Homo sapiens: one gene and its partner. The protein of the gene in region 1 interacts with the protein of each later gene in a pairwise test. Each region holds a gene or a part of one and is shown in the gene's direction. Other genes may lie near its edges.

Region 1 (3,656 bases):
GGGAGGCAGAGGTTGCAGTGAGCCAAGATCGCACCACTGCACCCCAGACTTGGTGACAAAGTGAGGCCCTGTCTCAAAAAAAAAAAAAAAGTTTATTGCTATCACATGAAAGAAGTCTGAAGTAGGCAGTTCCCAGACATTTGGTGGCTCCACAATCATAAGCAACATAGGCTCTTTCCATCTATGTGCCCCGTCACCTAATGTATGGCTTCTCTCCTCGAGGGGCTGATGGAGCAGGAGGAAGGAAGTAGAGAGGGGGAAAAATGCGTGTCCCCATGTGAATCAGCTCCCATTAAGAACTCATCTGGCTTAAGTGCCACACTTCCGCTTGCATCTCATTGGCCTCTAAACTTTGGTCATATATTCACAGCTATCAACAAGGAGTCTTTTAGCTGGCCACGTTGCTATCCCTCCAAAATTGGATTTCTGTTTCTAAGTGAGGGAGGAGATATTAGATGGAGAGTTAGTACATTCTGACACATGTGCCACCCAAAAATTTCCATCTTATTTGAAATAAAAAGAAATTCAATAAACGTGGTTTGGGGATTTGCTCACTTACACAATGAAATAACTAGAAAAATCCTGGGACAGCAGAATAGCAGAAAGGGGAAGGTGAATTTCTCCAATGGAATCTGCCTATATCAAATATTTTTTTCAACCAATTTTTCTGAGTGCTGATTATAACTAGGAGCCATTCTAGGCAACTGAGTCATGATAAGATAAATTTCCCAAGTGTTTTCAGCCTATAAATCAGCTTTAAGGGGTATAGATTTACTAAAATGCTTCTGCAACTGACTTTAAATTGACTTTCTTCTCATGTTTAGATACAGTCATAGGGTTTCAAAAATGGAAAGGAGCTTAGTCATTTGATCAAACATTAAATGATTGCTGAGTGTTTATCACAGTTGATTTATCAAAAGAGAGTGAGGGATTTTTTTTTTTTTTTTTTTTTAGAGAGAGATAGGATCTGTCACCCAGGCTGGAGTACTGTGGCTTGATCATAGCTCACTTCAGCCTCAAACTCCTGGGCTTAAGCAATCCTCCCATCTCAACCTCCCATGTAACTGGAACTACAGACACATCTCCTCCTCTGGCTAATTTTTTTGTCATCATTTTTTTGTAGAGACAAGGGTCTCACTTTGTTACCCAGACTAGTCTAGAACCCCTGGCCTCAAGCAATCCTCCCATCTTGGCCTCCCAAAATGCTGGCATTATAGATATGAGCCACTAAGGCTGGGTGTGGTGGCTCATGCCTGTAATCCCAGCACTTTGGGAGGCCAAGGTAGGCGGATCACCTGAGGTCAGGAGTTCGAGACCAGCCTGGCCAACATAGTGAAACCCCATCTCTACTAAAAATACAAAAATACAAAAATTAGCCAGGTGTGGTGGCGGGCGCCTGTAGTCCCAGCTACTGTGGAGGCTGAGGTGGGAGAATCGCTTGAACTCAGGAGGCAGAGGTTGCAGTGAGCCGAGATCGCACCTGCACTCCAGCCTGGGCGACAGAGCAAGACTATGTCTCAAAAAAAAAAAAAAAAAAAAAAAGCTTTCCTAGCCTTACGGATTTTATTTTTGTGATCATTTTTAACAATAATTGTTTTGAGATCACTGAGGCTTCTGCACTACACTGAAGTGGGTGTTGTCGTTGTTGTTAGTCTAGGAGAGTTGAAACTTTATGTGAAAGTTTAATGTGGTAAAGCAGTTGGATAAATCATCCCACTATAGCACTGACTTGAACTTGGATTGTCCCTTTATCTTTGGATTTCCTCCTTTCCTGCCCTGGGTTTGGTAGAAATAATATGAGTTAGTAGTGCTGCTGTTAAAATTCCAGGCAGCCACTATCCAATGCTTACATCAGCAGCCCTGAACATTTAGCTGTAATGATTATTGCTTAACATTTATTGAGACCTGTCAGAGGTTGGATGCAGCAAGATGGGGGATGAAGCACTTATCCTAGAGACTTGGAATTTGGAGCACGTCAGCTTAATTCATTGCAGGCAGCTTTCAGAGAAAATGGAACAGAAAGCTCTGTGGTATTGTCTGCTAGCCTGGTTATTTATAAGCCGTCACAAGAAAAGTAAAAAAGTGTGCATTTCCTTTCTCCTGCAAAAGAGAGCTTCCTTCTCTAGAATTTTCTAGACTATCTCAGCCAACAATGCACTCTTCTGGCTGGTTAGGTCTGATCCTGTGATCCTTCTGTCTAAACCCATCAAACGTTTTGCATCTTTTCAGGACAAAGGCCAGGGTTCTAAACTGGGCAAACAAAGCCCTCACGGCATGGTCAGACCTCACGGCATGGTCATGCTCAGCTTCTGCACCGCCCATCTCAAATCCCCACCCCTACCTCTTCAGAAGTTCCTTGAATATGTCTCAGTTTCTTGACAATTTCATACCTTTCCATTCTATGACATCTTGGCCCTTGTTATTATTTTGGGTTCTCTCCACTGTGTGCTTGACCGATTCCTACAATCTTTTAAGAACCAGCTCAAAACTCACCTTCTATAATATGTGAAGGTCACCCTGATCTCTGTAGGAAATATGGCTCTTTCTTAGGACTGCTAATAAGAACAGCTCCACCTGGCCGGGCACGGTGGCTCACGCCTGTAATCCCAACACTTTGGGAGGCTGAGACGGGTGGATCACCTGAGGTCAGGAGTTCAAGATCAGCCTGGCCAACATGGTGAAACCCCATCTCTACTAAAAATACAAAAATTAGCCTGGTGTGGTGGCGCACGCCTGTAGTTCCAGCTACTCAGGAGGCTGAGGCAGGAGAATTGCTGGAACCCGGGAGGCAGAGGTTGCCGTGAGCCACGATGGCACTACTGCATTCCATCCTGAGAAACAGAGTGAGACACTGTCTCCAAAAAAAAAAAAAAAAAAGAATAGCTCCACCTTGCTGACCTACACACCTACACACTTCACTTTCCACAACATTGCAGGAGAGATTTTATCCTCTTTATAACTGAAGAAATTGAGACAGAGAGGTTAGCTCATCTGCCTAAGGTCACAGAGCTAGCTAGGAAGTGGCAGAGGAGATACTGGAACAAGGTCTATGGGATCCCAGAAAACCTCAACTTCTCTGGACCATTCCTTCCTCTGCAATGCCCTCACAAACTCTATCACAGCACTACTCATGGAGCTTCAAAACCATATGTTTACCTGTCTTTCCTCCCACATCAATTGCAATCCCCTCCTGAACGCCTTGCTTTCTCCTCTTTGTACTCTAGGGTCTGGAATATGATGAGTGCTCAATGGATGATTGCTGAATTATCTATTTATTATTGTTATTATCATTATTATTATTATTAATCCTGCAGTCACCTCGGGTTCCATCATGTAACTGTGAAAACATTTCCTATCCTTTTTTTCTAGGACAGTGGTCCTTGACCCTGTCCCCAAAGCTGAACACTCCCTGGAGTTGCCTGCAGCACCAGACAGCTTTGGGCTATGCACGGCTCCACCCTGTCCCTGAAAACTGAGCAAAATGCCAACATGGAATAAAGTTTAACTCCCCTTCATCTCCGAGTCACTGCTGTAGCCCTTCTTTGCCCACTGCTCCCATCTGCTTAGAGGAGGCAGAATAATAGAAGTTACAGGGTCAGCCCTATAGGGTTGAAGTCTAGGCTGTGTCCCTTCCTAGCGTGTGACTTGAGCACTTT
Region 2 (3,656 bases), 9.5 Mb from region 1:
ATCTTCTGAGATGTTTATATTCAATACTTATCTGTAAAGAGCTTTAAGACACCTGAGAAAAACGTGCTACCCTGATTCAAATAAATAAGAATGTGTATCACAGAGTGAATCATTTGCCTGAAGCCATAAACCCAATAGAACAATGTTTTCTTTACAAATAAATAAGCCAATAATGAAAATACAGATAAGTCATTTGAGTCTCACCATGTTTTTATTTACTAATATCAAGGACAGAAGTGTTTGTAGCTTGTGATAATTACTCTTTATTTTCTGTTAAAATGAGTTTGAAGGGTTTGTGGCTTTTTTTTGCAGTTTTCTGTATACTTTTAAAACTTTTCTTTACGTATTTCAAACTAAGTTATTTTCAGATACCAGATTTGGAAATAATAGCATTTACTAACATTTGAACAGTTATTTTACAAACGTAAGTTCTGTAAGTTTACTCTTTTTGATAAGGGAGTTTTCTCCAAAAGAGTTTAAGGTTGCCATTTTTTTTCCAGGTCAGTTGCACTATCTAAGACAGTTTTAATATATTCATACTATTTTTCAAGTGGAACACATTCAAAATAATTTATCCACCAAAAAAGGAAGCAAGAGTACCTATAATTTTAGGCTGGAAGACTTTGAAATGCTAAGAAACATGGTTTTAAAATATTTTCTGGAGAAAGAAAAGGATTTTTAAGGTTTTGGTGATCTTTGATGTATATAAATAGTCTATTTGCCTGACAACTAATAGACAGTAATAACATTATAGATAGCATTAACTTACCAGTAGCCAAGAAATAATAGGGATTGGGAAAGTCTCTGTACTTTTATTTGGTCTTTTATTATGTGAAATATGCATATATCATACTATTTCTTTATATAAAACTATACTTAGGCCAGGTGAGGTGGCTCATACCTGTAATCCAGAACTTTGCAAGGCTAAGATGGGTGGATCACCTGAAGTCAGGAGTTCAAGGCCAGCCTGGCCAAAATGGTGAGACCCCTTTTCTTCTAAAAATGTAAAAATTAGCTAGGCATGGTGGTGGATGCCTGTAATCCCAGCTACTTGGGAGGCTGAGGCAGGAGAATCGCTTGAGCCTGGGAGATGGAGGTTGCAGTGAGCCTAGATCACGCCATTGCCCTCCAGCCTGGGCAACAAGAGCAAAACTTGGTCTCAGACAAACAAACAAAAAAACTATGCTTAAAGAAATAGTAATGTTTTTCAAATAGAGAATAGAACCTTTCTTCTACTTTTTTTTTTTTTTTTTTTTTTAAAGCAGAGTGTTACTCCGTCACCCAGGCTGGAGTGCTGTGGCGCGATCTCAGCTCACTGCAGCCTTCACCTCTGGGGTTCAAGCGATTCTCCTGCCTCAGCCTCCTGAGTAGCTGGGATTACAGGCACCTGCCACCACGCCTGACTAATTTGTGTATTTTTAGTAGAGATGGGGTTTCACCATGTTGGCCTGGCTGGTCTCGAACTCCTGACCTCAAGTGATCCACCTCAGCCTCCCAAAGTGCTGGGATTACAGGCATGAGCCACCACACCTGGCTCTTCTACCTTTTTGAAGAGCACTTTACCTTCTCTACATTAATACCACAATGTGAAGAGTTACTATCCTCAATGTTTAACAAAACTAGAAATTTATGACAGGGAACTAGACTGAATACATCCATCCTCCTCTCTGACTTCTCTGAATCCTGAATCAGAATTTCTCTCTAGTCCAAGAAGAATATGAGTAGTTATTAATACCATTCAGCAATATTCCTGATTTTCTTCTGCTCATATGGTGAAATTACACTTCCTTGCCCTCTTACGCATCACTGTGTGATGTTCATTGATCAGTGAAATGTAAGCAGAAGTGAAGTGTTAGCATCCAGGTAGAAGTTAATAAGAGAAGGTTTATGATTTTCAAAGTAAATTCTTCTCCTTGCTGCAGTGAGGTGGTCCAGATGGTTGGAGGCTCGGTAGGCTGTGTCCCTGTTTGTGGTCAGTGGGGAACAGAGTCTCTCTTGTCTTCCCTAATCCCTGAGATGTTGCATGATGCAAAAAATAAATCTTTGTTGTGTTAAGCCATTGAGATTATAGAGTTGTTTTGACACAGAATTAAGTGATATAAATATTAGGCACTACCTAGTAATAATGCTAGAGGTTTATTTGTATATATTCATTATATAGTGACTGGATATTTAGAAAATTGTCAAGACTATATTTTTAAATGATCACTTAGTGTACTTCTTAACCTTTATGTAAATAGATAGAACTCAGCTTGTTGTAGAATATGTGTTAAAAATTAAGGAGAAAGCCTTCTAGGGGCAAGGCTGAGGATAGATATGTTCAGTCCAGTTTTTTTGGGAGAACCACAACACAGAATGGCTTTTTTTTTTTTAAGAGCCAGGAGGAAGGGGGGCCCTGCAGGCAATGACTCCATCAACCTTTTATATATTTATTCATTTAATGAATATGTATTAGGTGGCAGCTATATCAGATGTTATTTGTTGCATAGGAGTTTACCATAACAAATATTCCTTCTGCTAAAGGATCTGACTTTTATTCATAGGTTCAGGAAGAGTGTGTATGTTGTCCTGGGTTACAATGTTATATGTATTTCTTAAGGTAGGTTGCTGCAAAAAGTATTTGAAAATGCTTGTTTTAGCATGTATAGTAAAAGTCAATGACAAAATAGGACTTGTAAAATTAAATGATAGAGAAATAGGCTGGGCACGGTGGCTCACACCTGTAATCCCAGCACTTTGGGAGGCTGAGGCAGTCAGATCACTTTAGGCCAGGAGTTTTGAGACCGGCCTGACCAGCATGGCGAAACCCCATCTCTACCAAAATATACAAAAAAATCAGCTGGGCATAGTGGCACACACCTGTAGTCCCAGCCACTTGGGAGGCTGGGGCACGAGGATCACTTGAACCCGGAAGGTGGAGATTGCAATGAGCAGAGATCACGCTACTGCACACCAGCCTGGGCAACATAGCAAGACTCTGTCTCAAAAAAAAAGTAAAAGAGATTTAAATAATTTTTTTAAACTGTGGCAAAATATATGTATAACATAAAATTTGCCGTTTTAACCATTTCTAAGTTTAGGGACATTAAGTACATTCATATTGTTGTGCAGCCTTTACCACCATAATTTTTTTTATGTGTATTTAGATTTTTTTTTTTTTTTTTTGAGATAGAGTCTTGCTCTGTCATCCAGATTGGAGTGCAGTGGTGTGATCTTGGCTCACTGCAACCTCCACCTCCCGGGTTCAAGCAATTCTCGTCCCTCAGCCTCCTGAGTGGCTGGGATTATGGGCGCCTGACGCCACACCTGGCTAATTTTTGTATTTTTAGTAGAGACGGGATTTCACCATGTTGACTGGGCTGGTCTTGAACTCCTGGCCTTAAGTGATCTGTCCGCCTCAGCCTCCCAAACTGCTGGGATTACAGGCGTGGGCCAAAGCACCTGGCCAAAAAATAATAAATTTTAAAGTGTGTTTCTACTTGGAAGGCTGAAGGATTCTTCTGTTTTTTAAGAGAGCATTAACAAAGCAATTATTTTGGTATTAAAAATGGGGAAAATTTGAATTTTAAAAATTTAGACATTAACTACTGAACTATATTAGAAATTACTTTTGAGGTATGGGTAAAATGATTAATAGTCCATTTTGTTAGATTTAG

The links.
Region 2: the proteins of ANKRD55 (region 1) and TRIM23 interact in binary tests that used the Homo sapiens proteins (3 or more experiments, as listed by UniProt).

What each region holds. Positions count from the first base shown.
Region 1 is NC_000005.10:56,104,307-56,107,962, reverse strand, and holds part of ANKRD55 (ankyrin repeat domain-containing protein 55), read left to right. Parts: intron 1-3,656.
Region 2 is NC_000005.10:65,614,244-65,617,899, reverse strand, and holds part of TRIM23 (E3 ubiquitin-protein ligase TRIM23), read left to right. Parts: intron 1-3,656.